5 linked regions of the Homo sapiens genome follow. The protein of the gene in region 2 purifies or fractionates together with the protein of the main gene of each other region. This does not show direct contact. Each region holds a gene or a part of one and is shown on either strand. Other genes may lie near its edges.

What was found.
Region 1: the proteins of MAP7D2 (region 2) and FMR1 purify together in Homo sapiens (pull-down; one large-scale study listed by IntAct). This does not show direct contact.
Region 3: the proteins of MAP7D2 (region 2) and CLINT1 purify together in Homo sapiens (affinity purification with mass spectrometry; 2 studies listed by BioGRID and IntAct, with this or other methods). This does not show direct contact.
Region 4: the proteins of MAP7D2 (region 2) and KIF5B purify together in Homo sapiens (affinity purification with mass spectrometry; 2 studies listed by BioGRID and IntAct, with this or other methods). This does not show direct contact.
Region 5: the proteins of MAP7D2 (region 2) and STX8 purify together in Homo sapiens (affinity purification with mass spectrometry; 2 studies listed by BioGRID and IntAct, with this or other methods). This does not show direct contact.

The regions. Positions count from the first base shown.
Region 1 is NC_000023.11:147,942,650-147,948,523, reverse strand, and holds part of FMR1 (fragile X messenger ribonucleoprotein 1), read right to left. Parts: intron 5,394-5,874; coding exon 5,198-5,393; intron 3,656-5,197; coding exon 3,473-3,655; intron 2,991-3,472; coding exon 2,908-2,990; intron 1-2,907.
Region 2 is NC_000023.11:20,025,355-20,031,843, forward strand, and holds part of MAP7D2 (MAP7 domain-containing protein 2), read right to left. Parts: intron 599-6,489; coding exon 327-598; intron 1-326. UniProt on the Homo sapiens protein: Microtubule-stabilizing protein that plays a role in the control of cell motility and neurite outgrowth via direct binding to the microtubule. Acts as a critical cofactor for kinesin transport.
Region 3 is NC_000005.10:157,798,269-157,804,757, forward strand, and holds part of CLINT1 (clathrin interactor 1), read right to left. Parts: intron 5,452-6,489; coding exon 5,382-5,451; intron 1-5,381. UniProt on the Homo sapiens protein: Binds to membranes enriched in phosphatidylinositol 4,5-bisphosphate (PtdIns(4,5)P2). May have a role in transport via clathrin-coated vesicles from the trans-Golgi network to endosomes. Stimulates clathrin assembly.
Region 4 is NC_000010.11:32,044,548-32,051,036, reverse strand, and holds part of KIF5B (kinesin-1 heavy chain), read left to right. Parts: intron 1-513; exon of another isoform or gene 514-727; intron 728-2,485; coding exon 2,486-2,573; intron 2,574-6,489. UniProt on the Homo sapiens protein: Microtubule-dependent motor required for normal distribution of mitochondria and lysosomes. Can induce formation of neurite-like membrane protrusions in non-neuronal cells in a ZFYVE27-dependent manner.
Region 5 is NC_000017.11:9,547,165-9,553,653, reverse strand, and holds part of STX8 (syntaxin-8), read left to right. Parts: intron 1-6,489. UniProt on the Homo sapiens protein: Vesicle trafficking protein that functions in the early secretory pathway, possibly by mediating retrograde transport from cis-Golgi membranes to the ER.

The sequences.
Region 1 (5,874 bases), about 130 Mb from region 2:
TCTTTATTTGGTTTATGATTTTAAAACACTCTTCTTCTTTAACTGGAACACACTGGTCATCTCACTGCATCCAAAGTTAGAGAAAAACTCACAATCCTATCATGTCTTCTTCTAAGTAGAATAAAACAGTGAGAAACAAACAGGTAAAATGAATTACTATTACTGATTACCAGAAGACATACATGCCTCTAACACTAGAGTTAAAATAAAATTAGTTATTCTCCAAAGATTGTGAAGCCCAGGAAAAGAGAAACAAAATGTTTTCCTATTCTGGCTTTACCCTCAAATAACTCACTAACTAGACTTTAATTTACATCTTTATATCTATCACAGGTATGATCAAGTTTCTCTATACTGAGAGCTCCCATAGTCATACAGTAGAAAAACACGAGCTTTGGTTTCTACTGGCTTGTATTTCACTAAGAAAATTCAGATGATCCTACAACCTGAACTCTGTCTGAAGAATGGAACAGTATAAAGAAAACTGCATATAATAATTTGTGGAAGGACTGGAATCCTAGGAGAGTATAAAGATCAATGTAATTTAAAAAATAGTGTTCTAAGAGCTATAAAATATTTTAAGTGCCAATGCTGAATACAGCACTGCTAATTCCAGAGGTACAAATGAAAGTTAACAGTGACAAATGGAACTAAAACAACTACAAATATTGATCTACTTCAAGCACAAATGCTAAAAACATCCCCAAATGGTTGTAATTTCAAAGTATGTTTAAGTAGTGGGTATGTGCATGTGTTTTAAATGTCTCGTTACCAAGGATTCAGTACTTTGATTTGTATCTTTTTTTTTTTTTTTCCCAGACAGTCTCGCTCTGTCGCCCAGGCTGGAGTGCAGTGGCGCGATCTTGGCTCACTGCAAGCTCCGCCTCCCAGGTTCACGCCATCCTCCTGCCTCAGCCTCCTGAGTAGCTGGGACTATAGGTGCCCGCCACCATGCCCGGCTAATTTTTTGTATTTTTAGTAGAGATGGGGTTTCACCATGTTAGCCAGGATGGTCTCGATCTCCTGACCTTGTGATCCACCCGCCTTGGCCTCCCAAAGTGCTGGGATTACAGGCGTGCGCCACCGTGCCTGGCCCTTTTTTTTTTTTTTTGAGATGGTGTTTTGCTCTTGTTGCTCAGGCTGGAGTGCAATGGCAAGATCTTGGCTCACTGCAACCTCTGCCACCTGGGTTCAAGCGATTCTCCTGCCTCAGCCTCCCGAGTAGCTGAGATTACAGGTGCCCGCCAACACGTCTGGCTAATTTTTTGTATTTTTAGTAGAAATGGGGTTTCACCATGTTAGCCAGGCTGGTCTCGAACTCCTGACCTCAGGTGATCTGACCACCTTGGCCTCCCAAAGCGCTGGGACTACAGGCGTGAGCACCGCGCCTGGCCAGATTTGTATCTATTTTCATACTTAATAGAGAAAACATCACCTTTTAAATTCAGTATTCCATTTCATTTAGAAATATAAATGTGCATCCTTTTAACCAATGCAGTTAGACTGCCAAGTTCATCAAACATATCAGTTTAAGTGGAAAATTACAAAACGGGTACTTAAATATCTTATAGCTTTGTAAAAGACAGGTACATACAGTAATTTACCAATCTATCTATCCCTTGGACATGCTGGTCCTTAAGAACCCACCAATAGTTAACACTTACTTTGAGCTGCTATGAATTCCAAGAAATATTCCATCATAAACTTTGTCTTAAAAAGTATCTCTCACTAATCTTGGGTGATGGTCCCAAATGAATCCATAGTCAGGAAGGAACCCTAACTACTTAATAATTAAAAGTTACAGAAAAAGTAGACGACAACATAGATTCAGAGAATCAGACACTAAGGTTTGACTATCATTTGGACATATGCTAGCTATGTGACTGTGGGCAAAGGACTGAAGCTACAGTGCACTCACCTATAAAGTGGAATAATAAAACTACCTCAGTGGGTTGCTGTAAGATTAAATGAGATAAAACATACACAAAGCACTTAGCAAAGGTGCCTGGATGTGCTCAGGAGATAATTTTAAAATTATTTAACAATTGGTTTAGCACTGGTGACAGCCAATTGAGAAGAGATCCTCGGACTAGGTCCTGGCTGTAAATAAGCAGATGACTGACCAAGCATGGAGACTAGCTGAATATCATCAGCTCTGTCTATCATGATTATTAGTTGTAAGACAGACACCTTCTTTTCCTTATTTTCTATTCAAAGAGAATACCCTATCCCTGTTAATTTGGGGGAGCAAAGACACATAAGGTTTACTGAGGTCTCTAAGTACATCCCAGGATGTTCCTTCTCTGGGGGATTGCAGGTCTACCAATGTGGTATTAAAATCATAGTGTGGCTGGGCACAGTGCTCACGCCTGTAATCCCAGCACACTGGGAGGCCAAGGTGGGCAGATCACCTGAGGTTGGGAGTTCAAGACCAGCCTGACCAACATGGTGAAACCCCGTCTCTACTAAAAATACAAAAATTAGCTGGGCATGGTAGTGGATGCCTGTAATTCCAGCTACTCAGGAGGCTGAGGCAGGAGAATCACTTGAACCCGGGAGGCAGAGGTTGCTCTGAGCCGAGATTGCGCCATTGCACTCCAGCCTGGGCAACAAAAGCGAAACTCCCGTCTCAAAAAAATAAAAATAAATAATAAATAATAAAATCATAGTGTGGCTGTCAAGGTCTTCACAAATACTCAGACTGCATATTCTCTAGAGAAATCCTCTTATTTGTATACTTGTCACAAAGAACTAAGATTGACTACAATTGTAATGTTGAAGGTAAAATATTTCACATAAACTGGATTTGTAATCTTTGAACATGTTTTTAATAAAGTAAAATAAACTCATAAATCTCAAACTACCATATTCAAACAATTAAGATGAAAAGAGGCAGACAGGTTTTACCTGAAGGGATCCATCTGTTGTTCTTCCTTTAGCCTCTCTTGGATTACGTGGACGATTATCTGTTCGGGAGTGATCGTCGTTTCCTATGAGAATATTTTCAAAAGGTTCAACAGTTACTGATTCTGAAATGCTTACTGGAAGTTCTTTATTCCCACACCCTCTATTTAAACCAACCACAGAATCTGAAATGTAATCAATACCCCAGTGATTCCAGTTACACAATGGCTAATAATCTAGCCTGCTGCTAAGTAACAGAAAATATTTCACAGTTATTATAATTCTGCATCTACAGGTCAATGTGAGTTAATGAAGGGATGCTGTTTAGACCCACCAAGATGCTGAATTAGTTATCAGCATTTATTCATATATCTGTATGAACCATAAGGAAGGCTGCCTAATATTCTTTCTTTCTACACAAGTGGAAGGCTGATCCTTTCCTATGGTATCAGCACAAAACGGGAGAGATGGGATCTTGGTAACAGTTCATTGCATCAATAGGATTTCTCATGGAACTTCAAGACAGCTGTTACAATTCACTTTGATTTCTTAATGAAGATCTCCATACCTTTGAAGCCTCCTCCACGTCCTCTTCCTCCTTGTCCTCTTCCTCCCCCTCCACGCCGCCGTCCGTCTCCTCTGCGCAGGAAGCTCTCCCTCTCTTCCTCTGTTGGAGCTAATGACCAATCACTGAGTTCGTCTCTGTGGTCAGATTCTGTTTCAGAAGCATTTGATGCTTCAGAATTAGTTCCTATCGAGAGTTAAAAGTTATATACCATTGTCTGACTTTAAAAAAAAAAAAAAGAGGGTTAACAGAAGCTTCCAGAGACGTTTCAGGGGTAATCCAAAACTCTTCCCAATTTATAAGCCCACAAAGAGTATTATCACTTTCCATTTCATAAAACAAAATTTTAAACTCAAAATGAAGGGCTTTGCAATATTTGAGGTTAATTTTGGTTATAAACATGTTTCATTCTCATTTTTAAAAAGGTATGTTATTAGCCACCTAAGTTCAAACCTTGATGTGCCATATCATTAAATAGCTGTGTTCCTTTAAACATCTATACTCTCTGGAGGAAAAGATTATCCACGACAGTTAAGTGTGATACCCTGATAAACAAAACCTCTAAAAAGAGAGCTCCTTTTAGCAAGATTTGGCCCAGGACAGAGGGGAATGTATATATTTTGGTCATTTCTGAGAGGGTGGCAAAGGAGGCCACCATGGCAACTGCTTCAGGGAAGGGTCTCTTGTGGGTCATGGATTGGATCTAGCTGAAGGCAGATACATGCTTGCCTGATGTTTGGTCCACAACCTGCCCTCCCACTCCCATTACAATAATTGATCATTAATAAAGAATTACTATAATAAATTCATTATGCCTGAAGGGGTTAACGACTTAGAGGACAGGAGCGGAGAAAAAGAGCTCCACGGTGAGGCAGAAATTCATGAGTAAAAAGAACAGACTGTTGGGAGAGGGGTTAGGGGTTAGGTTCAAGGTTGGCCTTAGGAGTAGGTAACTCTCCCCAACTCCAGAATATCAGCTCTACTACCTCTCTCTTCCTCTGTTGGAGCTAATGACCAATTATAGCTTCACCATTATAGCTTCATTCCTGTGGATCTTGAAGGCTTTTCCATCTTAAAGAGTTCCTTTTTGAAATGCAAATATGCGTGAAATGGATTATACCTTATACCATCATTAGCAAGTTACAAAGGAGATACACTGTTGAGCAAGAAAGACAGTAGGCACTGGCAGGTGGGGATCAGGTTCACTGAAAGGTACTGGGAGAGAAGAAAGAAGCACGGACAGAAAAGCTGGGAAGGCAAAGAGAAACTTCGCCTACTTCTTGACTGTGCCTAGGGCTGACTTTGGCCATGTCACTCAAAATCACCTTATGAGCCACAAGAGGCAGACCCCTGATTTACACAGTCCATCCAGCAAGTATGACCAGCACATACCTGACAAAATAAAAATGAGCCACAGTACACAAATGAAAAAAGTTTTGACTATACAGTTATAAAATCAGGAGAGGCCTTAAGAAAATCATCAACACACAAGGGCTTTGCAGATTTACCCCCAATCAGAGCATGAACAGAACTTGCACCGGCCCTGTGAACTCTACGTGTTTATCATCAGGTTTTTACTCTATGTCTCCTGTAACACAATTTAACCCACTGTGAATTGGAAACCATGTAGCGGCAAATTGTTATAATGGGGTTCTAATGAATATTAGAGATTAGCAGCTATAAGTCTAGGAACAGATAAAGTTACTGAGTAAAATGCTTAGTTTGTACCTGAAGTATATCCAGGACCGCGTCTGCCGTGCCCCCTATTTCTGTAAGGTCTACTACCTCGACCCATTCCTTGACCATCATCAGTCACATAGCTTTTTTCCTTATCTGTACGATTTGGTGGTGGTCTAGAACTAGCTCCAATCTGTCGCAACTGCTCATCAATTTGTAATCTCTCCAAACGCAACTGGTCTACTTCCTATTTAAAATATACAAGATAACAGTAAAAATAATTTGACATTTTACTTAATAAAACCTTTCTCCTTTTCATCAGATAAAAATATACTGGAATATTTCAATTTCAGTTCTAAATTTACAGTAAACACTGTTACACAGAATTATCAGGAAATTGAATGATCTCCTTAAAAAGAAAATTACTACAGATAACAGATTATTGATGTCAAGAATTAGAGATATAACAAAAACACTCAGCAGTAAAATTATACTGAATAAAATTTAAAGTTGTCTAATTTGGCACTATTATCCAATTATTCTACTGCTAAGGCACAGATATGCTATTTTGGGGACTTCTTCATGATAGGATATTAAATAAAACATGCTAAAATGTATGAATATAGATAAATGACATTCAAGGTATAACCAGCTAACCTTAAAAATCACACATTGTAAATAATCTTGATTAAAATAGATTTGCCAGTTAATATCTTAATTTACAAAGC
Region 2 (6,489 bases):
TGAACTCACTGCATCATAGAAGCCTGAAAGTCTAAAGGAAGATCTTCTTTTGCGTGAGGTGCAGATGCAGGCCTGTTTTACTCAGCATCCCCGTGAGCTTCCACAGCCATGAGTGGAGTCAGCCTCTAGATTTCCTCCAGGGGACCCTCAGAAGACTGAAGGAAAGAACTCAGGAGCAACGTGCAAACCCAAGAAAGCTGCACGAGGGGATGCACTTGTCCCCAGAGAAAAATCCCTTTCCCTCCCCAAAACATGAGAGAATGGCACGTGGATTGGGTCTGAGGAGAACCGTCTTGGGAAAGCCAAGGCACGGTGGCAGCATCTACCTGCGCTGTTTTCGGCTTTCCCTCCTGCGGCAGCAGCATGCTTCTCGCTGGCATGCTTGTCCACTACATGCTTCTCTAGGGCTTCCTCTCCTTGCGGGCCAGCAGCCTGCTGAGCCAAGGTACCTTCCCTTTCCTTGTTGCTCTTCTCTTTCTCCGCTTTCCTCTTGGGCATGTCTTGGCCAGAAAGGGCAGGTAAGCGGTACTTCACAGGAGACCCTGGGTAGGGAGGTTTCGTTGTCTTTGGAGACTGTGGATAAGCTTTAGTAGCTGTCCTGGAAAACAAAAAATATGCCAGAGGATGATTACTGGGCCTGAACACAGAGCTCTCTGTTCCTAAGACACCTAGTTCCAACAAGCTGAACAATTTCATCCTTCCAGAGGAAGGAAAATAGGGCTTAGCACACACTCAAAAGTCACTAAAGTGCTCTCAGCCCAACAGGAATATACGGTCTCTCTAAGACGGCCCTGGTGGAAAGGGAAACATTTTAAGAAGCCCAGCTGATGATGCCATGTCCTAATCTCACTTAGGTTTCATGACAATGTAAAGATGGAGTATTAGGCACTTCCCTACTCCCTCTTTTTAGGTGAACATCAGGGTTGAATCTGGTTTCAGCATATGGCAATGAACATGCTGGCTCCTTTTAAAAAAATTGTGACAAAACATATATAACACCAAATTTACCATTTTAACCATTTTTAAGTGTACAGTTCAGTGGCGTTCAACTCTCCATTCCCCTCCCCTCAGCCCCTGGCAATCACCCTTCTACTTCCTGTCTCTGTGAATGTGCCTCTTCCAGGTGACTCGTATAAATGGAATGACACAGTATTTGTCCTTTTATGTCTGGCTTATTTTACTTAGCAAGTCTTCAAGGTTCCCCATTTCTTTTTAAATGCCAAGGAACACAGCCAAGAGATGGGGATGGGGGGTGTTTTTTGGAGGGTCTCAGGTTTAAAAGAATCTCTCTTCTCCCAACTGGGCAGATGCAAAAGGTGAGGACAAGCCACTTGGTTAAAACACAGGAGCTCGTCTTATGTCTGCTGGGAAAGGGTCCGTTACAGGTACGCCAGCCTAGGCTGGGCTCCTGGTGAGTGCTGCTTGTTCAGGACAGGGGTAACAGCTTAGCTTGAGATGCCCAGTTTCCCTAGAGGTTTGAACAGGGATGTGGGCATTTGTACAGAGTTCCTCTAGGAAGGATATAAAGTAATGTATACAGAAATTACAAGTCATCACCCTCAATCCTCAGCAGGTTGAACCATGAATTGCTAATATCTGACTTTTTTGATCTATAAAAACAGCAATAAAAATGGCAAATCACCCTGATATTCAAAGACGATTTTTCACCAGAGGCTTAGAGTTACCAAATCAGATCCTGCTAATAAGGGGAAATATGATCAGATCAATATTAAACTTGGTCTTGAAGGAGAAAAGAATCCTCAAGTGGCATGTGGACTTTCATATTGGCCAAGTGGCTTCCCTGTGTCCTCATGCCATTAGGCCTGGAGCAACTCAGAACTCCCAAGACACCTTGTCTTTGTGGATGGTGCTTCGACTCTCTGCAGACTATTCTCCCCTCTGGCCTTGGGCTCAGGCCCCACACTCGGGTTCTCCTAAGGGATGTGGTTTTTCAGAGTGCTTAGCAATCAGGTGGTTTTTTCCAGGTACACTATATAACGCTGATCTTCTATTTTTTCCTAGACTTTTACCAAATAAAAGCCATGCAGAGAATCCCCCTGCCCCGCCATACATATACGCCCGCAGAGCAGGCTTCCTCAACCTGGCATCACTGACATTTGGGGCTGGATAGTGCTTTGTTGTGGGGTTGTCCTGGGCACTGTGGGATGTTTAGCAGCATCCCTGGCCTCCATTCACTAGATGCCAGCAGCAGTCCGCTCCCCACGCAGGTTATGACAACCAAAAATGCCTTCAGACATTGCTAAACGTCCCCTTAGGGACAAGATCTCCCTCAACTGAGAATCCCTGAGACATGGGGTAGGGCGGGGAGGGAGAGAGGGAGAGAGAAAGAGAGGGAGAGAGGGAGAGAGAAAGAGAGGGAGAGAGGGAGAGAGAAGGCGGGGGGAGAGAGAGAGAGAGAGAGAGAGAGAGAGAGAGACAGAGACAGACAGAGACAGAGACAGATGCACACACACTCTGTCTGTACCCAGTAGGTAAGAGTGGAGCTGTTCTGCTTGGAGGGGTAGTGTCCAATCCCCATGGTGACCTTGAGGCTCCTGAGAGCCTTGGCTTGAGAGGTAATGTGTGAGTGCCTCTACGATTCAGCACGTTGAGTCCTCATGTGTTCTGACACAGTCAGACCAGGTCCTTACCCTGGCCATTTGGAGCTCAGACCTCCATTCACACTCTCTGCAGTTGTGTCCATGTTTACTGAGTGCTGTCTACACACCAGCCACTAGGCTGCTAAATGTCTACAGACACATATTTGTGTACATATGTGTGTAAATGGTATGACACAGGTACTATTATCATGGCCTCTTTACAGATGAGAAAACTAGGCTTAGAGAGGTGAAATGGCTTCCCACAGTGAACTAAGCCACAGAGCCTTCTTACAGCTCTGCTCTACTTCCTGTGTTGCCAGCGCAGCTAAGTCTGAGTTTGGGGTCACCAAGACCCCAAGATGTTCTTTATAGAACTGGCATAGAGTAGGCACTCAATAGCTGTTAGGTATTGGTGTTGATCAATTAGATGATAAACTAAAAATCCAAATAATCCTCACAGACAAGAATGAACCAAAACCAGGAAGATGAACTGTAATAACAGGGGAGCCCATGTCCTGCTTGCTCACACTGACAGTGCTCCATTGAGCATGGTTTTCCAATGAGTTACACAATGTGTACTAACTGTACACATTAGCTGAGCCTGCATTTAGTCTCAGTTAATATGTATAAAGATACAGCTGGTGGTCTTTTGCTTGGCCACGTCTTCCTTTCACGCTGTTATCTAAGGTGAGTGGCGCCCACAGTAGAGCTGTATACCCGCCACCCAACCACCACGAGGGTGTCTCAAAAGACTTGGTCTAGTGCCTTGCCAAGATCAAAGCACATTATCTCTCCACTGGATTGTCACGTGAATGATATGTGTCCTTTGATCCAACAACAGTACAAGGGCAGGGAGTGGATTTGAAACTTGGCGATAGAGGCTGTAGGAAAGACTATCTCGTGGTAGATGATAACAGATGGAAACACTTTCTCATCCCATAAGCATTCCTACCTTGACCTGTTGAGGAGGACTTTCTGGCATTGGAAGGCCTGGCAAATCTCACCTGATCTTCTTGCTTGCCCTCACCCTCCTCCCCGTGGAATGAGGTACGATTTCTCTGATTGGTGAGAATGAGCAAAGCTGCTGGGTGTGCACAACCCTGCCTGTTCTTGTTCTCTCCCTGGAACTGGCCTGCGAGCCCACACTCTGGGCTTCTCTAAGCAGTATAGAAAGAGTTGGGCTCTGCTTCGGGGGTCCCTGAAGTGTGCTGGCACTTCTGCCCATGAATGGGTAGGCAGACAAGAAGCCTTCCTGCAGACATGACTCCGACCACAAGGGTCTCCAGGGCTGGACTGGGGGGAGTGGGTGGGAGGCCTGAACTGGCTGCAGCCTCAGCAGCCATAGCCAGCATCTGAGTTCCAGCACAACCTCTGTGTCTGCTTAAATGGCTCACACACTCAGTCAGTGTGGCAGGAGCCTGTTGGCTATGTCAGACCCATCTAAGTAAATGGAAATGCAGGACAAGATCCTAATCCTAGGGAGAAAAGGCCAGGGTGGCCTAGGTGGGGGAGGTTCTGACAGCCTCAAGTTGGCATAGCCCTGAACAGCCTTGCTTGTTTTAAGAGAATGGTCACATGTAGGTTCAGTTCACGCCACAGACTGCGAGGTTCCATTCTAAATAAAACTGGACCAATTACCCATGAGCACACATTTAAAAATAACTTCTACCTGAGAAGTAAGGGTGGATTCTTTGGGATAAAGCTCATTAAGAAGTCTGTTTACAGTCCCCGACCCCAGCCCCTGCCCAATAAACAGAGTAAGTTAGAAAACACACACACTTGTATGCACACACAAACATGACCTTCAAATTAGAAAAGTGTGGGCAAGTCATAGATTTTTTTTTTTTTTACAGTGAGTGAACAAAATACAGAATTAAAAAAAAGAAGTTCCCAATGTTATCTACAATCTGTCAAGTTTCCTGCTCATCCTGCTTTGCCACTTGCTTACATGGACTTTGTACCCTGTCAGCTGCCCTGCAAAAGTGCTAAGCACAGGTATCCGGAAGAAACTAAACCACAAGGCTGGTATGTCAGACTGCACGGCTCTCTGGCCAGCCCTGCTCACATTGCTGAAAGCCAAAGAAAGTCTGGCAAGCTATTTTTCAATTTCCTGGAAATAGGTATTTTGGCTGATTTAAGAAATATGAATTAATTAGGGGAACTCACTGTGCTTGTATGGAGGTTTATTCTGAAGTACCTTCTCATCTATTTAACAAGGGTCTATTTGATTGCCACAGTAATCCAGTGAGGTACGTAGGAAATTGCTATTAACCATATTTTACAGAAGAAAACCAAAGTCCTAAGAGTTTAAACAACCTTTCCCAAAGAAATGCAAACAGACAAGAGTACCAGGGCTGGCACTCAAGGCATTTGTTCATTGTCTCACTTTTTTAGCTCTTCCACTTTAATTTTTTAAGGTCCAATAAAAATATAACAAAGGGGATTCACAAGGTGTGTTTAGGATGGTAAACTAGACCTTCTAGGAACATAAGGCAGTATGATATAACCTTTTAGGTTCCATGACTGGCAGAAAATACGAACAAACACCTCTGTAAACACAGTGGCAAGAATAACTCTCTGGAGAGGGTTGTCATGCCTCTGAATGTGAGTTGACTGCAAAGTGGAACCCCCAAAAGACTTTTTTCCTCCAATCTTGGAATCTAGTTCCATGTTCTCCAAAACCACTTGACTCCATGCACAGTGAGTGAACACGGCCCACTCACTGCATGGGAGGGGTCTTGGCTTCATCAGCACAGCTCAGCCAACATTCAGAAAAGTTTGTTACTTCCTAGATAAGAAAGAGCAGCAGTTTTATACCGGAGAAACCTGGGAACACCACCTTAATCCAGTAATCAAAGTTAATATCACCAGTAATTAAACAAACTGACATCATAGCCTCCTGATAAGAGGTACTGAGAAGGACCCAACACCTCTGCCACGAGATTCCTGCCCAAAGAACACAACCTGAATGCAATCAGAGGAAACGTCAGGCCTATCCAAACTGAAGGCAGTCCTCAAGACGACTAGCCTATATTCTTTAAAAATGTCAAGGTCAGCCGGGTGCAGTGGCTCACGCCTGTAATCCCAGCACTTTGGGAGGCTGAGGCGGGTGGATCACGAGGTCAGGAGATCGAGACCATCCTGGCTAACATGGTGAAACCCCGTCTCTACTAAAAATACAAAAAATTAGCCGGGTGTGGTGGCATGTGCCTGTAGTCCCAGCTACTCGGGAGGCTGAGGCAGGAGAATCACTTGAACCCGGGAGGCGGAGGTTGCAGTGAGCCGAGATTGCACCACTGCACTCCAGCCTCAGTGACAGAGGGAGTCACCATCTCGAAAAATAAAATAAAATAAAATAAAATAAAATAAAATAAAATAAAATAAAATAATGTCAAGGTCAGGAAAAAGAATGGCTGAGGAACTGTTTCAGTTGAAAGAAGACTAAGAAGGTGAGACAATTAAATGCAATGTGGGACCCTGGGTTGGACCCTGGACCATGAAAAAAAAAATGATATAAAAAATCTTATTGGGCCAGACCTGGTGGCTCATGCCTGTACTCCCAGTACAAAGGAGAGGGCGAGGCAGGCAGATCACTTGAGGTCAGGAGTTTGAGACCAGCCTGGCCAACATGGTGAAACCCCATCTCTAATAAAAACACAAAAATTAGCCAGGTATGGTGGTGTGCCCCTGTAATCCCAGCTACTCGGGAGGCTGAGGCAGGAGAATCACTTGAACCTGGGAGGCGGAGGTTGCAGTAAGCCGAGATCACAGCACGGCACTCCAGCATGGGCCACAGAGCAAGAGTCTGTCTCAAAAAAACCCAGAATCTTACTGGGACACCTGGCAAAAGTTGCACATACATTAGAAATTAAGTAACAGTACCAAGTTA
Region 3 (6,489 bases), on a different chromosome or scaffold from region 2:
CAAAAATTGCTGCATGTGGAAGACTGCTAATTTTCACAACAAGTGCTATCCTTCAAGATTCCCACATGAGAACTGTCATTATAAATGAACCACTTCCATCTGCCTTTCCAGGGCAGCAGGGAGGTTATTTAGTCACCAGCTGGGAACATGTATTTCCCAAAGCAATATTGTGAACAAGAAAATACAGGTAAACTAGACAGTACTTAAACGACAAATGGAAATTTTCTTTGACAAAAAAATTTAATCTAGATTACATTAAGACAAACTTTTGCATGAAGAATTTACACAACATTAAAGCAATGGCAAAGTGCAAAAAAAATGTAAATACATGACAAAGAATTATTATCTATAATACACAAGTTTTAGAATATCAATAAGGATGAATACTCCTAATAAATAAAGAACATGAATAGATAGTAACAACTGGCCTATAAAAATATGAAGTGTTCAAACTCAATCATCAATGCAAAATAAAATGAAATATTATTTTCTCTTTACCAAACTGAAAAAGCTTTAAAAGGTGCTATTGTACTACAAAATTTTGGAAAAATAAAAAAACTAATGTCTAGAAAACAAGGGATTAACTGGCTAAATTATAATATAGCCACCCAATGTAAGATTATAAAGCAATGAAAAGTACTATAAAAGAATACCAACTATCATAAGAAAATGGTCATGAGATCTTAGGTGAAAAGCAGTTTATCAAAATATATAAATAAATGACTAAAACCCAGAAAAACCCAAACAAATGAAAAGTCATATCTAAAAGCCTGAAAAAGATCTGCCACATAATAAATGCTTAAATAACTACATTAATGGAATATGTAGAAAATGTATTTTAAAAAGATATTCACCAGATTAATACTTTATGTGTCTAAATTATGGTAAATCACTTGTTTTCCACCAAATTGAATGTGCATTACTTTTAATAATCAGTGAAAAAGAGAATATACTGAAAAAATTTTATTTTCAGTAAACTTAGTTTAAAACTGGAGACAACCCCTACCCAAATGATAAGTTAGTGTACTAAGAATGGAACAAGGTGAGTATTTACATGTTCATGTAAATGTCTTCAACTAACTAGCGATTACTGGGTACAAAGCAGCAGGTTCAAATGTAAATGTAATACACATTTCGGATTTGATATACCTTAATCCTTTTAAATGTTTCTTTTTAACTTAAAAACATTCAAAATATATTGCAAGTCATTTAAGTTCTATCTGTATTGATTATGCTGAATTTTCTCAACCTTATTTATTGTACTAGAAATATCTAGTTTAACAGTATGTTAATCAAGACCTAAATTTCTTAATTACAAAGGGACAAAAGAGACAAGTTGGACTTCTTTTTAAAGAGGTGAGATAAACTAAAAAAAGAAATGGGACAGTTTTTGGCATTCTATTTCTAATTGGCTTATTTTCTAAATATAGTCACACATTTCTCAATGACAGAATGCATTGGGGCATTAGGCAATTTTGTCATTGTGCAAACATCATAGAGGGTACTTACACAAACCTAGTTAGCCTACTACATACCTAGGCTATAAGGTATAGCCTATTACTCCTTGACTTCAAATCTGTACATCATGTCACTATACTGGATACTGTAGGCAACTGTAACACAATAGAAAGTGTTTGTATATCTAAACATAAGAAAGGTACGGTAGAAATATAGTATTGTATATGGGACCATGGTCACATACTATGCAGTCCATGACTGTACTTTAAATTATTTTTCATTTCTTAAAATGTTTACTTAGAAATGTACTTTATGTAAAAGCAACTGAAACACCATGTGAGTACAGGTTTTAAAAGAATATCACCACAAGGGGACATTTTATTAAGATATGAGATAGTCTCAAGTAAATCCTGATAGTTAGGTTTTACATATATATTTTTAAACTTGGTAAGATATTCTACAATGATTTTACCATATATACTTTTGAGAATGCTAAGAACATGTAATCACACACACACAAAAATCTGAACATTTTCTCAGAGGATATATTTAGCTGGTGAGTGGTACAGATGCCATATCTGCTTAGCTTTACAGTTTGTGCCCACATTACTTGCATGATGGTACTATTATAAATATGGGCACATCTGGTAAATGACACCCAAATGACATACCAAATAGCAATGTTAATATGGTAGATTCTTATACCTTCTCGTGTAAGTGCTAAAGATTTAATGCCCAATTTCCTTTCACTGCTGAATTCAATTTAAAATATATTATTAAAATATTTAAATAGAGATTGGGAGTAACTAAATTTATGTACTGATTGAAGAGGGAGCTGCACAAACTGGTTAAACATACGGTTTCAAATAGGAGATAACTTTAATTTTAAAAAATTCTTCTAATATCAATCTCTATTAGTTGCTTTTTATTAAGATAAAATAAAATTTAAGGCAAGAAACCTCCTAGATTTCATTCAAACTTTCTCAGTTACTATATTAATATCAATTGCTACTTCTATTTAATTAGTCAAACTACTGTTTGCACTGGAGAAGACAAACCACTCAAAGGTTCCTTGCCAAGTAAAGGAAGCATGTTGGTATTTAATAAATCTCTCTGTTCAAAGCAATCTTGATGTCACAGAGGAAAAGTTACATCCACCCATCTGACCTTCCTAGTTAATTCTTCTCTGATTGCTCCATTAAAACTTTTCACAGATGCATGAAAGGGGCCCTTTAAATATTTCATGCCAGGAAGTCCAAAATAGTTGATATTCTGTGACACTATATCTGTATTATATGACTACATGCTAACTACCAGTTAATTCTACAGTTCAAATCTTAAACATATAAAAATATATCACATAAATTGTTACACAACTAATGTAGCTGTCCGTAACCTTGGGCATTACAGTCCAATCAAGTTTAATGAATAATTTTAGGAACAGTTTGCAGTTACAGAAAAACGGGAAAGGGAATTGAAGAATTTCAGAAAGTAGGCTGGCCAGGCATGGTGGCTCACGCCTGTAATCCCAGCACTTTGGGAGGCCAAAACAGGTGGATCACCTGAGGTCAGGAGTTTGAGACCAAGCTGGCCAACATGGAGAAACCCTGTCTCTACTAAAAATACAAAAATCAGCCGGGCGTGGTGGCGCATGCCTGAAATTCCAGCTACTCAGGAGACTGAGGCAGGAGAATCGCTTGAACCCGGGAGGCAGAGGTTGCAGTGAGTCAAGACTGTGTACTGCACTCCAGCCTGGGCAACAAGGGCGAAACTCTGTCTCAAAAAAAAAAATAGAGAAAGAAAGTAGGTCAAACCAGATGTCTGGGCTGGGTGCAGTGGCTCACACCTGTAATCCCAGCACTTCGGGAGGCTGAGGCAGGCAGATCACCTGAGGTCAGGAGTTCGAGACCAGCCTGGCCAACACAGTGAAACTCCGTCTCTACTAAATATACAAAAATTAGCCAGGCATGGTGGCAGGTGACTGTAATCCCAGCTACTCGAGAAGCTTAGGCAAGAGAATTGCTTGAATAAAGTTCATGCCTAATCCAAGAATTTTAACATAGTAGGTAAGGAGGAGGAAATAATAGGGGGCTTTATATTACATTAATTATACTAAACTATCAGTGAAAAGTAATTTCCAGCATAGACTTACACTTAAAGGTTAAGTTAAAGTTTTTTTTTTTTTGAGACAAGAGTCTTGCTCTGTCACTCCAGCTGGAGTGTAGTGGCATGATCTCAGCTCATTGCAAACTCCACCTCCTGGGTTCAAGCGATTCTCCTGCCTTAGTCTCCTGAGTAGCGGGGATTAAAGGTGCCCATCACCACGCCAAACTAATTTTTGTAGTTTTAGTAGAGACAGGGTTTCACCATGTTGGCCATGCTGGTCTTGAACTCCTGACCTCAGGTGATCCGCCTGCCTCGGCCTCCCAAAGTGCTGGGATTACAGGTGTGAGCCACTGTGCACAGCCACAATTCGGCTTTGAAAAATCATTACACACAACTGGGAATAATAAATTTACTTTGCACATTAGTCATACCCCCATCTTACTGTCTACATTTTAATGTGAAATGAACTTAGGCTTGGAAAGACTGTCTTTAAACAGAAGATGTATTTGTTAAACTATTTTGACACGTCACACAATAGTTTATTAAAACTCCATAATCATCAAATACAACCCTAAAAATATCAATTTTCTTGAAAACAATTGATCAGAAATTACTCAAAATCTAGCACATACTGGAAATCAAACTGAAGAAATCATCAATCTCATCTATGAGAAATTCAAGGTAAACAGTTCTTTTGCTGTAGCCCTCTCTTTTTTTTTTTTTTTTCCGAGATGGAGTTTTTCACTGTTGTTGCCCAGGCTGGAGTGCAATGGCGCAATCTCCGTTCACTGCAACCTCCGCCTCCCGGGTTCAAGTGATTCTCCTGCCTCAGCCTCCCGAGTAGCTGGGATTACAGGTACCTGCCACCATACCCGGCTAATTTTTGTATTTTCAGTAGAGACAGGGTATCACCATGTTGGCCAGGCTGGTCTCGAACTCCTGATCTCAGGTGATCCACCTCCCTCGGCCTCCCAAAGTGCTGGGATTACAGGGGTCAGCCACCACGCCCAGCCGCCCTCTTTAAATATGTTTGGTAGTTACATACTTTCAGAGAATGTCATTCCTCTGACTGAAGCACTTGCCATTGTTTATCACTAGATAACTATTTGTGACTCTGATTAATGATTATTTTCTCCACTTGACCTTCGCATGAGGACAACAACTCTGTTTTTTACAAGCACCCAGATCAGTGTCTGGTTCAACAAATATTTGTTCAATTAAAAGAATAAAAAGTTAAATGATCTCTAGGCATGCCCAAGGTGACAGCTGCAATTAAAATTTAGGGAAAGACAGTAAAATGCGCAGAGCAGTACCTTTTGCTTATAAAGAAAGTAAAGGCAACAGTTTAAATGCAATTTTTTGTTTCTCCAAGTTAATCTTAAAAATTAAAAATGGAAACTATAGATTCCAAAATCTATGATGAAAAATTTCAGAAAGTACATGATGCCTTGAAATACTATTTATTATTAATTAGGGAAGACACAGTACATCAGGTATGAGGAGTCATTAAAATCTAAGTATGATAATGATTTGAGGATACTATTATTAACCACCAATAAGTACTGACCACAAACAAAGTTTTGCTAGTCTGAGGGTGGGTCAGAAAAAGGTATAAAATAGGGATAGAGAAATGGGTGTACATATAAAAAGATAAGCAAAAATAACACAATGATTCCAAATAATGCTCAAGACTCACTAATTTCATATAAAAAATGAACCCAATGCAAATAAGTAATCTTATTTTTCAATCTATCTTTTATTTGGCATTTTAAAAAATGACTCTCAAACCAAAAGAAAAGGCCAATGTAGAAGCTTACCTGTTGACTGGCTGGTGCCATCAAACAGATCAACAAGGTCACCAGATGACTTGCTGCTAGGCACTGAAGTCTGAAAACACACACATAACTCAGGAGCTTCGAAAAGTTTGTTTTTCTAAAAATCAGCTCTATCCATCTCTAATTCTCAATTTAGACATAAATACCTGTAATTAGCTTAATAAGGGTAGGGTTTTCTGGAAAAAGAGTACTGACCTTGAATCCTTATGGAGAGGCAGCAAGCACTTTTAAGTACCTCCATTCCCAGCAGTGTAAAAGTCTCTTAACATTGACACTTTTTTTCCTACCTCACTTTTCTGACTGCATTTCACTCTGGAAAATATTAACTGCCAGATCCCACTTGAATCTTAATGCTAAGTATCAGTTCATTAAAAAAAAAAAAAAAAAAAAATACCCTAGCATATGTACCAGTCCCATACAATACACTGAGTCATAATTGCCCAGGTATAAAAAGGCCAAGACCTTGGCCTGTTAAAGTCTTACAAGAAAGCTCCCTAGATAATTCCAAGGCTTGAGATCCACTGGATTAGAGGTCAAGATCCTAAACAGCTCTAAATTTCTATGAACCTTAGCAAAACTTATTGTTTGTATATCACACAAGTTAGTATAATTCTATGTTATTTGATATATTGATATGTTTCATATTTAGTTCCCCAACTAAACTGAGGCCTATACCTGTAATACTATTTTTATCTTCTCCACAAAGCTAAGCACCCTGATACCTAAATACCTATGTCCTATATGTTAGATATATACATGCTAAATTAGAACTCAATTATTAGGCAATGGGGAAACCCTAAGATCCTAGGCATGTTGATTTGAACTTTGAAAACTAAAATACTATATACTGTGATTCCAAAACACCTTTAAGAACAGATCCAAATGAGTTGGGTAACTTTCTAAGAACTTCAACCTTCTAGACATTTTTTTTGAGGGGAGGAGGGTAAATGAAAACAAAAAAGAAAAAGCTTGTACTGCCGGGCGCGGTGGCTCAAGCCTGTAATCCCAACACTTTGGGAGGCCGAAGCAGGTGGATCACTTGAGGTCGGGAGTTCGAGACTAGCCTGACCAACATGGAGAAAGCCCGTCT
Region 4 (6,489 bases), on a different chromosome or scaffold from region 2:
ATTTCTAAAATTGTGTTACTCATCTACAATATCTCATATCTTTATAGTCACTAAATGAATGTCTGCTGGATAAATGAGGGAAAATTACTTTCTTTTTGCATAGAAAAAACTATTAGTATGGTTTGTTTTTGGGTGGCGATTGTTATTTTGATTGTACTTAACGTTTGTTTTCAGAATTGTTCACCATGAATATATCTTGTGTCAGCAGTAAAATAATAGATTTCTTTTAGTCACACCTGTAGAATTGAATGTTAATTGTTTCAGTAGCATCTGAGAAAAGGATACGTTCACATATGTCACAACTAAAGAATAATCAGACATCGATGCCTATTTTAAATTGATGCCAAAGTGAGATCAGCTTCTTGTATCTGTCAGTAATGCTTTCAGCTTTAGAGGAAAAACCAACAGCTAATAGTGGCTTAAATAAATAAGAGGATGTTTTTCTCACATAACAAAAAGCCTGGATATAGGCCCTTCACGGTTCCTCACTCTGTTATACTTTGTCGTCCTTAGCTGTTGCTTTTCATCATCCTGTTTGTCGTATTTGCAAGATGGATGCTACAGCTCCAGGCATTCATTCCAGGAAGGAGAAAGGGCAGTTTTAGCTGAGATGGTCCTTTTTATCAGGATAACAACACCCTTCTCAGAGACCTCGAACAGACCGCCACTTCATATTATTCAGAGCTTGGTCATGTGACTACTAGTTGCAGGGAGACTAGGCTAACAGGTATTTGGCTTTCCGGCCTATTTATTGGGAGGTAGCAAGGGAAAGGGGAATTGGGAATGGCTTTAGGAGTGTCTGGTTCATTGTTACTTTTATTTCAGACTTTGAAGTGGGGATGTGGAGGGTAGTAGGTCTTTTTCAGCTAAGACTTAGGAAGTGTTTTCTAATGTTAAGGGCTTTTTCTGGGGTCATGATTGTTTTGTGTTTTAGGGCCCAACTTCCTTCCTTTCCTTTAGGAGAAACTAGAGAGCAGGCAGATACTTGCAAATACCTAGAACCCCTTGCCTCTTATTTTTGGATACCTACTCTTTCTCCTAGATTATTAAAATTGTTCCTGCAAGCATTTAAACTACCTCAGGTCTTACAAGTCTTAAAAAAAAAATAACTTTCTTAGACATACAGCAGATTTTCTGCACCACTTGGTTACCTCCCATTCTTTTTCAATCCATTCCAATCTGACCTTTGTCATTGAGTACTTTTTAGTTTTGTCTTGGCCTCACAACTGTATTTGACATAATCACTCCCTCCTTGAAAATTATTATTTTTTGACTTGCATGGACACCACTGATTTTTTTTTTTTGTTCAATACCCCTGGCTCCTTCTCAGACTATATTAGTGGTTCTCTGAGAGTGGTCCATGGAGTCCCCAGTATCATTTCTGGGGTCCAGAAGATCAAAGCTGTTTTCAGAATAAGATGATGTCTTTTTAACCGTTTTGATATTTGCATTTGATCCTTGCTCCTTGTACTTCAACTTAACAACTTCCATTGGTTTCTTGAATGCTACACTGTTCTTTCTGCCTTAGGATCTTTAAGTATCCTCCCAGTGCCTAGACTACTTTCCTACACGAAACCTTTTTCACCCTTCATGACTAATACTGGGGAGAGTGATGATGAGTTAGTTGCTGCGTATTTTTCAGTTCTTAAATATTCTTTCTCCAAGGGTGTTTCCGTGATATTCTGCTTTCCCGTAGACTTAGGTTCTCCTCCTATATTCTCTCATTGCACTTTCATAGCACTCAATTGCATGAGTCAGAATTCTGGTCACTTAATTTTTTAATGTCTGCCCCACTATTATTTATGCTCCACTAAAGCAGAGAGGGAATCTCTTGGTTATCATTCTAGCATGTCATCTCACATTCCATAAGTATTTGTTAAATGAAAGAATGGTTGAAAAGCTGTTGCAGGACAGGCATGGTGGTTCACACCTGTAATCCGAGCACTTGGGGAGGCTGAGGCAGGAGGATCTCTTGAGCCCAGAAGTTCAAGACAAGCCTGGGCAACATAGCATGGTGGCACATGCCTCTAGTCCCAGCTGCTCAGGAGGCTAAGGTGGGAGGATTTCTTGAGCCCAGGAGGTTGAGGCTGCAGTAAGCAGTGATTGTGCCACTGCACTCCAGCCTGGGTGACAGAACCGAGACCCTGTCTCAAAAATAAATAAATAGGTATTTAAAAAAATAAAAATCACTCAGCAATATTTGGCTGCCATAGTAGTGCTAATTATAATTACTGGGAATTATAATTGTAATTACTGGGCCCTGGGAATGCAGCAAAGACTAAAGACCATTCTTGTTTTCCTGGAGTTTATTCTAATGGATTTGTGCATGGTGATCCCTTCTACTTCAAAGATTCAATGATACCAAATTATGCATACTAGGTATACTATTTTGAGGATTAAATATATTATATGATGGCATCTGTAAAGGTTAGAAATGTTCATTTACCTTTAATTTGTATAGTTGAAACACTTTTTTGTTTTTCAGTCCAAGCCTTATGCATTTGATCGGGTGTTCCAGTCAAGCACATCTCAAGAGCAAGTGTATAATGACTGTGCAAAGAAGATTGTTAAAGGTAAATATATTCAACCTGCTGAGTTGTCTCAGCAATAAGTAAATAAGTTTGTGATCTTTTCTACTTACTCAGCTTCCTTTTTTCATTTTAATGCCCCTTTCTTCTAAGTTAATTGCAGAAGAAAGTTGTTTAAATAATAAAAAGGTCAAACACAATTAGTAAATATTCTATTGCTCAAATTCCATGATCTAATTATATACAGTACCTAATTAAGGTTATTATGAGAACTATGTTACACACTTATTCTTAAGAGATGCATTTCTGTTAGATATTCCCAGGAGAGTTTCCAAGGTGGCAGTTCTAGAAAGAGAACAGTATGAGAATGAAAACAAAAGGGCTAGACACATTTCTAAAAAGTAGTGGAAAATGGCAGTCTATCATTCTTCCATTCCATTGTTATTCCTTCCCCAAAGACTTACCTATCCCTTGAGGAATTTAACAAGGGTTGCCAAGGGTGAGAAAAGTATGTACATTCCAGTTAATACTATAACTTATACAAGAATATTTATAACTTTATATATTCTAAAACCATTGAATTTTAAAGCTGAGAGAGTGCTCATTGTTTATCTGGAGTTACTTCCAGTTACTGTAGAAATCTGTTTAATCAAAGGAATGGCTGTTACTTTGTGATATGATTTATTTCATTTTTTGACAGCTGTAGTTGTTACAAAGTGCTTCTTAGATTGAGGCAAAATCTGTGTTGTGGCATTCACCACATTAAAAGAATTGGGATTCAGTATAAAAATAGGTGGATTAGGATAGCATAGGAGCACAGATGCTCATCCTAGTAACAGGAGATAAAGTGGAGTTATAGAAGGTTTATAGATGAGGTGAGGGAGGGAAAATGTGTATGTACTCATTATATCAATTTCATATTGTCTAATACAGGGAGCAAAGTCATCATGGAGATGAGGAAGGGGGAAGAGGTTCTAGGAAAAGGCATGAAATGGATGGATTCAGGCAGTGTGAGAGTATTGCCAGGCAGTATTAAGGGCCCACTCAAGGTTAGCTGCTGAAAGAGTTGAATTTTTGCCCATTTGGAGTTTTGCTAGGTGAGTACAAAAGAGGGAAGTGGGGGACAAGAGAATTGAGGATATAGTCAAAGGAGTGATTATAATGGTGGACCATGGGATCTAAGGTGGTTAAGTTACAGGAAGAAGGATATGAGGGAGGCTGAAGGGCAGTGAAAAAAGGTGGTAACATTAGTGGGTTGTAGATCTCAGTGGGGTCAAAGATTTGTTGGAATCAGGGTACTGGACGGAGTAATAGAAGGTGAATACAGACAGTCCCTGACTTAGAACAACTTAAAATTGTTCGACTTTACGATGGTGCAAAAGCAATACACATTCAATAGAAATATTCAATAGAAATATTTCTAGTACCTGTACAACCATTCTGTTTTTCACTTTCAGTATAGTATTCAATAAATCATATGAAATATTTAACACTTTATTATAAAATAGGCTTTGTGTTAGATGGTTTTGCTGAACTGTAGATCAGTGTACGTGTTCTGAGCACATTTAAAGTAGGCTAGGCTAAGCCATGGTGTTTGGTAGGTTAGATGTGTTTGATGCATTTTCAGCTTAGGGTATTTTCAACTTACAGAACATTTATCAGGAAGTAACCCCATCGTAAGTTGATTAGTATCTCTACTTGAAATTGAGATTATGGAAGCAATGCAGTTAGTAATGAAAAGGTAAAGGTGTTGTCATGGAGTTGACTTCCGAGGTAGTAAAGAAAGGATAAGGCCAGACATGGTGGGTCACACCTGTAATTCCAGCACTTTGGGAGGCTGAGGTGGGAGGATTGCTTGAGGCCAGGAGTTTGAGACCAGCCTGGGCAACAGCGAGACCCCATCTCTGTTTTTAAAATAAAAATGAAGAAAGAATAAGATCGCAGAAAATTTGGTCAAGGAGCTGAGAGGCCAGGTTATTTTAGTGGGATTATCTGCTACAGACTTTGAAACCACCAGTACTGTTTTATTACAACAGTAATGGTATTGGTGAGAGAGAGTGAACTGGGTACTGACATCTTCATAAAATGAAGGGGAATTAACACTTGTAATTGTGTAAATGACTGCAACAAAGAGGAACAGGGTCATCATGTTGTAAGCATCATGTGGTTTTCCAGAGGGATCGATCATAGAACACAATTTTACTACATTCTTTGATTGAGACATACTTCTGTCTCATCAGTACAGTTTAAGATTACATTAGCTTTCTAACCAATAGAAAGTTACCGATTCATGAATTCATGGGCAATTTGAATATACAGGTCTTTTTTGTATCTCTTGCCGCCAGCTTTAAGCCCCATTCCATACTTGCACTTTGGAGAGCAAACCTTTAAAGTGCAGATTCCATTTTGTTCATTTTAGCTCTTAATCATATTTTGAGTTTTATACTGGGGATCTAGTAAGTTGGCTGTCAGCACATTTGATAAGTCTATTAAAGTGTCAAAGGTTTTGAAGTTTGAAAAATATGATTCTAAACCATTTATAAAGTGCTTAATGGGTCATGGTCCCTAGGTTAATCTTCTAAAATGAATAAGATTGTTGGCAGTTATTTCAATCACACTGTTTGGGTATTCAGCCAACTTCAGAGCCTCTTACCTATACGATTGGCTAGTCCTTAGTTTGTCAACATACTCACAAGAAAATGATGAAAAACTTGAATCCTTTTATCAAGTGATGGTGCATGACTCTAGTATTTGCCCAAAGTACCAGTTGAATAACCATATCCAAACAGGAAATGAGGTTAGTTCAACCATAGTCTTTACTTAATAAAATTTTGGTATACTTATTTCCATAATCTATCCCTTTTCCCATTTTGAAAATGTAAATAACATTAGTGTCTTCTATTACCTTTGTTCTCTTTGGCTTTTAAAAGTAACCTACAGTAGCTGTGAGATTTTTATCCCTGGAACGTAATCCTCCTTAGTAACTAGAAACTTGGGCTCATTTGAAGCCATTCTTTTGCTATCGTACTATCCACATAAACCTTAAAGTCCCTTTCAACAATGTTTATTCTGTTGTTCTGTTTTGAGGATCATATTTGTGGAAGATGGTAGTAAATAGAAGTACCTCTGTTTTAATATCATCAGTTAATATTTTCTGGTCTTTCCTAAGCAATGCAGGTTCATTCATTCATTATTTTTTTTCTGAATATGACTTTAAAAGTTCTTTTTAGGGCCTTAGTTTTTATTTTGTTTTGGTCTTAAAGTTACTTATCCTGGACTTTTATCTTTCTCATGCTGTTCTCGTGAGTTCTGTCTCTTCTCTTGTATATCCTTAGTTACACAGTCTCTTAATAATAGGCTGATACTCAGAGTTTTTCAAAATCTATTGTTTTTTAAGTGGTACCTAACCTTAAGGAAAAGAAAAAGATGAAGTCTGTTTTCCTGACGTTTAGGATACATGCATCTATTACTTTTGTTCTGTTTTATTACTATTTGCAGTTCTAAGATGAAATCGTTTGCTTCCTGAAATTTCTCTTCTTTTCTCAAAATTTCAGTCCCTTCTTCATCCTGCTTTACTGTTTGGAACTGCGTTCAGGATAATAGTTCCCTTCTCTGTAATATGGTAAGAGTATAATCTTTAGAATCAGACAGTCCTAGATTGAATTCTAGGCTCTGCCACTTTCTTGCTGTGTGACTTTTGGCAAGTTACCTAACCTTTCCAAGCCTCCATTTCTTCTTGTGCAAAATAGGTACTAGGAGTTGTTAAGCACAATACAGGTATCAGCTGCTAATTGTGTCCTCTGTCGTTGTCTTCTTTTTTTTTTTTTAAATTGAGACGGAGTTTCGCTCTTGTTGTCCAGGCTGGACTGCAGTGGCGCCATCTTGGCTCACTGTAACCTACCTCCGCCTCCCGGGTTCAAGCAATTCTCCTGCCTCAGCCTCCTGAGTAGCTGGGATTACG
Region 5 (6,489 bases), on a different chromosome or scaffold from region 2:
TGTTGAGAAAAATGTTTGTTCATAAATCACCAATGGAGTGACTTTTTAATCCTTTTTTTGAGGCATAATTAATGTTTGGTGACTTTTTTAATGTGAATATTTGAATACCACATTTCCTTACTGTGCTGGATAGTTGAGAATTTATGATACTTAATAAATTGATGCCTTTCTACACTTGTGAACTTGTCCAAAGAACACTAGGAGTTGCCAGAAAAGTCCTGTGCAAATGCTTTCTAAACAATGAAATTCATGGAATTAAGGCATGAGATGTTATGCTCTCTCCTGAAAAAGTATTTTTCTCCTGGCAAGAATAAAAGTCAAGTTAAAATGGAAGTTCTGTGCTTTTGAATCCATTAGCGTGCAATTAATAAACCGAAGTCTTGCAGTCAGAGAGTTTAAATTTCTGAAAGACCTTAACATCTGTTCACAGTGTTTCTTTGAGATAGGAACTATAATTGTCTTACCAGCTGAGAAGAGGGTTATGCTGTGGGAGGCTGCATATGAAATTCCAGATAGTACTAAAGATACTTAGTACCATCTTCTTAGAGTTGGCTTCACATGAAACTTATCCTTTTGTTGGCATTTCACAGGAGGCAGCACCTTTACTTATTTTAAAGAGAATAAAGAAAATCTCTTTACAGAGGGGTTTGATGTCAAAAAGTACTTTGGTGTCTTGGGAGAAGGCCTTTGGAAATAAGTTTTAAAAATCTATAAATAAATTTTCTCATCCCAGGCACTTTGGGAGGCCGAGGCGTGCGGATCACGAGGTCAGGAGATCGAGACCATCCTGGCTAACATGGTGAAACCCCGTCTCTACTAAAAATACAAAAAAAATTAGCCGGGCGTGGTGGCGGGCGCCTGTAGTCCCAGCTACTCGGGAGGCTGAGGCAGGAGAATGGCGTGAACCCGGGATGCGGAGCTTGCAGTGAGCCGAGATCGCGCCACTGCACTCCAGTCTGGGCAAAAGAGCGAGACTCCGTCTCAAAAAAAAAAAAAAAAGAAAAATCTATAAATAAATTTTCTCTACTCTATTTTTTGGAAAAACAAAGATAGGTAAGTAGATAGATAAGTGCATAGACAGATGTGGTGATTACTACATAACAAACCCCAATGGATGTGGTTGTGGAGAGGCTGACTGAACAGATTTTACAGGTAACCCCTGGTAGCTACAGTGGAGGTGAAGTGGTTTTCAAACACTGTCCCTGTCTATTGGTTTTCACTGATACTTGGTAACATGAGAAAAATAAGAAGAAGATAGTGTTTGTGTAGCAGAAGTTTTTTGATTTATAAGAACTTTTTTTCTGACTTTTTAAAGACAGGATCTCACTGTGTTGCCTAGGATGGGGGGCAGTGGCAAAATCCTAGCTCAGTGCAGCCTCAAATTCCTGGCCTCAAGAGATCCTCCTGCCTCAGCCTCCCAAGTAGCTAGGGGTCCAGGTGTATGCCACCATGCCCAGCTAATTTTTTGTAGAGATGGGGTCTCGCCATGTTGCCCAGGCTGGTCTCGAACTTCTAGTCTCAAGCGATCCTCCACCTTGGCCTGCAAAATGTTTGGATTACTGGTGTGAGCCACCATATCAAGCCTGTTTTCTGATTTATACAGAACTGTTACATGGTTCTTTCTAGTTTTTGGTGTTAAAATCTCCTTGCTTTTTCACCATGATAGTAAAAGTAGATAGTTTTGTTTCTTTTTTTTTTTCTTGAACATCCATACCTGGCAAAATGTATAATTGGTAATTCTATATAAGTTACACCCCCCCCTAGTTTTTTTGGACATATTACTGGTCCACGAAACCTGAATGTCTAGGTGCCATTGGTATCGTGGGAACAACATCGGCTCTGAAAGCAGACAGAACTGAGATTGAAGACCAGCTCTGCCACTTACCAAGGCCAAACAGCAGTTCAGCTTTTCTGGACCTTAGTTTCATTATCTGTAATGTAGGAATAATCATACTTTGCCAGGTTATTGTACAAGTTGAAGAAAATCTTTTTTCTTCACAGGACTAGCCCCCCATAATGGTGGGTGTTGAATAAAAGGTGGTTACCAACACCCCTGGGGAAGTTACTTAACCTCTTTGTGCCTCATTTGTGGAATGGGATGCTAGAAGTCCACCTGGCGTAAAGGATTGTTGTGTAAGGATGAGATTATATGCATACAGGGTGCTTCACATATACTAAGTCCTCCTTGAGGATTAGCTGCTATTGATTATTTTATCATTATTGTAAAGATTTCAGCTACCATTGAGAATTTACAGGTCATCCTTTCTTTGTGGAGTTTTTAATCATGCATGATGGTTATGTCAAAACTCACAAACAATGATGGTATTAAAATAGTACTTGCAAAATGTGATCAGTGCTTTGAGGAAGGTAAGGACTTGGCCTGGTACATCATAAATATTTATTAGAGTTTGTTGACTTAAAAAAAGAAAGCCAGAAAAGTCTTTTGACCTCTAGAACCTTAAACTGTTCCCTTGCAGTTCTTCTTTTTTGGCATGGAGAATTAATTATCTGCAAACTTCTTCCTTCGCCAGAGCAGCTCTTTCACAAAATAAGGCTTACCTAAATTCTATTTTTTTTTGAGACGGAGTTTCACTCTTGTTGCCCAGTCTGGAGCACAATGGTGCGATCTCAGCTCACTGCAACCACCGCCTCACAGGTTCAAGCGATTCTCCTACCCCAGCCTCCCAAGTACCTGGGATTACAGGTGTGCACCACTACACCTGGCTAATTTTTGTGTTTTTGGTAGAGATGGGGTTTTGCCATGTTGGCCAGGCTGGTCTCAAACTCCTGACCTCAGGTGATTCACCCACCTCAACATCCCAAAGTGCTGGGATTACAGGTGTGAGCGACTGTGCCCAGCCTAAATTCTTAAGCCTTCTACCAAATATAAGAGAAAATCCAGGAGCTGGAGTGGGATTGGGTGACCTGTGGATCCAGTTGCATATTTACCCCGCTCCATCTGTGGTTCAAATGCTCACCAGGCTACAGCAGAGAAGCTGGACTTATGCATGCTGGTAGTAGGTATCAGTAATATGAAATCAGGATCCAGTTTTATTTTTATTTTTATTTATTTATTTTTTGAGATGGAGTCTCGCTGTGTCACCCAGGCTCGAGTGCAGTGGCACGATCTTGGCTCACTGCAAGCTCCACCTCCCGGGTTCACGCCATTCTCCTGCCTTAGCCTCCCGAGTAGCTGGGACTACAGGGGATCCAGTTTTATTTACAACCTTACATATCCATGAATTGGCTATAATTACATGTACAATCAGCATAGCCAAGGACAAAGTACTATGATAGTTAGCTCTTCTCTTCCTTTTCTTTATCTGTCTGTTCTCTTATCTTCTTCCTTGGCTATTCACCAGGTTGGTGGAAGAGGAGGTTCCCCAGCACTGGCCACTGACTGTGTGCTGTACTACTTTTTTTTTTTTTTGAGATGGAGTCTCACTTTGTTGCCCAGGCTGGAGTGCAGTGGCACGATCTTGGCTCACTGCAACCTCTGCCTCCCGGGTTCCAGCGATTCTCCTGCCTCAGCCTCCTGAGTAGCTGGGACTACAGGCGTGTGCCACCACACCCAGCTAATTTTTGTATTTTTTTAGTACAGATGGGGTTTCACCGTGTTGTCCAGGCTGGTCTCGAACTCCTGACCTCATGATCCGCCTGCCTCAGCCTTCCAAAGTGCTGGGATTACAGGCTTGAGCCACCGCGCTTGGCCTGTGTGTCCTACTTTCTACTTGTCCTTAGCATCACTCAGGCACACTGTTTCCCCACTACCCTACTTTACCCAACTGCTACGCACCTGTCCACATACATGCTGTATAGATTGTTTCCTGGATGATCCTTTGACCTCTTACTAATAACAACCCTTACATAGCAAGGGTGCTATGCAGATGGTTCATTAATCAATTTATTCTCATTCCATCTCCCTCCTCCCCATCTCCTTATGCTCTGTTCTCTCCGTAGATTAAAATATAAAACAAAGAGGCAGCATGTTCCTAATTGGATTGTTTTCCAGATTTACAGAGTCTCTGGGAATATTCTGAATTCGTACTCCCAGTATTGTTTTTATCAGGATTCTAAGAAGTGGCAAAGTTAAGTCAGCATCTCAAGGTGGAGAAGTCTGCAGAATGTTTGGTGGAAAAGCCATGAGCTAGGGTTGAAAGAGCTGTCACCTAGCATGGCTGTTAACCCAGGCAAGTGACTTAGCCATGCTCACCCTTAATTTCTGGTCAGCAAAACAAGAGAACTGGGATCTTTAAGGCCTCTTCTAGCATCAACTGTGTGGGTTTCTGTTCTTTGGTTACTCATCTACAAAACATAGTCATCAAGTTTTACTGTTTCTGAAACTGATGTTCTTTGTTAGCTCCTTCTTGACGTAAGTTTAAATCTGTAACTAGTATCTGCTGATTTTAAAATGTACCTTTATTGTTTTTATTACAAAAAATATTATACTTTCTACTGATACATTTCTCATTAGTTATTACCAATGACTCCTCTTTCTCTTCCTTATTCTATCCTGTCTCATCTCATTCTTTATAGTTAAGTGTTAATGGTTGGTAGCTAGTATCTCAGACTTTTCTAGGCTTGAAATATATGCATATGTAAACATAAAATTCCTTTGACTATAAAGGGATTATATTATACATATGGTTCTGAAGCTTGTGTTTTTATTAATTAGCAGATGATAGAGACAAACATTAGGAAACAATATTCAGTGAAACATCAGTCTCTCTTATACCCTTAATCCTCAGTTGTCCTTCCTTAGAGGCAATGTTTATATATCAGAAATTTTCTGTGTGTATATACACACATATATAGTTAGGATTTTTTTTTAACAAAGTGGGAGCACACTACTCACTGTTTAGCTCCTTGCTGCTGCTGTTTTTTTCCCCTCCTTTGGTTTAATGTTATATTTTGTAGATTATTCCATGTCAAATAATTCATGTAAACACTTAGTAAGTGCTCAAAAATGTTAATTATCATTATCAGCCCCCTAAACAGCTTTCCTATTCTTTTTTTAAGGCTGCAAAACATTCCATTGTTTACATACACTAGTTACTTATTGATATTTCCAATGTGGCTATTATAAATAATGGTTCAGTGGACATCCTTGCTTCTAAGTCCTTGTAGGACTGTATCTGAGGAAGAAATGTCTGTTGAAAGACTGTACCTTTTATATTTTGTTAGGTATTTAGAAGGCAGTCTAGCAGTTGGTTGAACCTGTTTGCATTCCTATCAAGAATGTATGAGGTGGCCGGGTATGGTGGCTCATGCCTGTAATCCCAGCACTTTGGGAGGCCGAGGTGGGTGGATCACTTGAGGTCAGGAGTTCGAGACCAGCCTGGACAACATGGTGAAACCCCATCTCTACTGAAAACACAAAAATTAGCTGGGCATGGTGGCATGTGCATGTAATCCCAGCTACTTGGGAGGCTGAGGCAGGAGAATTGCTTAAACTCTGGAGCTGGAGGTTGCAGTGAGCCAAGATCATGCCACTGCACTCCAGGCTGGGCGACAGAGGGAGACACTGTCTCAAAAAATAATAATAATAATAAAGAAAGAATGTATAAGGTCAGGTGAAGTGGCTCATGCTTGTAATCCCAGCACTTTGGGAGGCAGGAGGGTCACTTTAGATTAGGAGTTTGAGACCAGCCTGGCCAACATGGTGAAATCCTGTCTCTCAAAAAAACCCACAAAAATTAGCTGGGTGTGGTGGTGGACACCTGTAATCCCTGCTACTTGGGGAGCTGAGAGGAGAATTGCTTGAACCCAGGTAGTGGAGGTTGCAGTGAGCCAAGGTTGCAACACTGCATTTCAGCCTGGGATGATAGAGCAAGACTCCATCTTAACAAAACAAAACAAAAAAAAAAAAAAGAAAAGAAAAGAAAAGGAAAGAATGTATGAGAGTGTCTGGTTCCTTGTCCCTTTCCAAAACTGTCTTCTCAGTTTCCTAATCTGATAGGTGGAAGTGGTATCTTGTTTTAGTGTGTATTTCTTTTCTTTTCTTTTCTTTTTTCTTTTTTTTTTTTGAGACGGAGTCTTGCTCTGTCACCCAGGCTGGAGTGCAGTGGCACAGTCTCGGCTCACTGCAACCTCCGCCTCCCGGGTTCAAGTGATTCTCCTGCCTCAGCCTCCTGCGTAGCTGCGATTGTGCGCCACCATGCCCAGCTAATTTTTGTGTTTTTAGTAGAGATGGGGTTTCACCATATTGGTCAGGCTGGTCTCGAACTCCTGACCTCGTGATCCACCTGCCTTGACCTGCTGGGATTACAGGCGTAAGCCACCACACCTGGCCAGATATATTTTAAAAGTGTTTGTTAGCTTTCTCCACTCATTCATTTTATGGCAGAAGTTGTTTCCAAACATATCCTTTACTGTGTTTCTTTTTTCTTTTTTTTTTTTTTTTTTTTGAGACAGAGTCTCGCTCTTTCACCAGGCTGGAGCGCAGTGGCGCGATCTCGGCTCACTGCAACCTCCGCCTCCCGGGTTCAA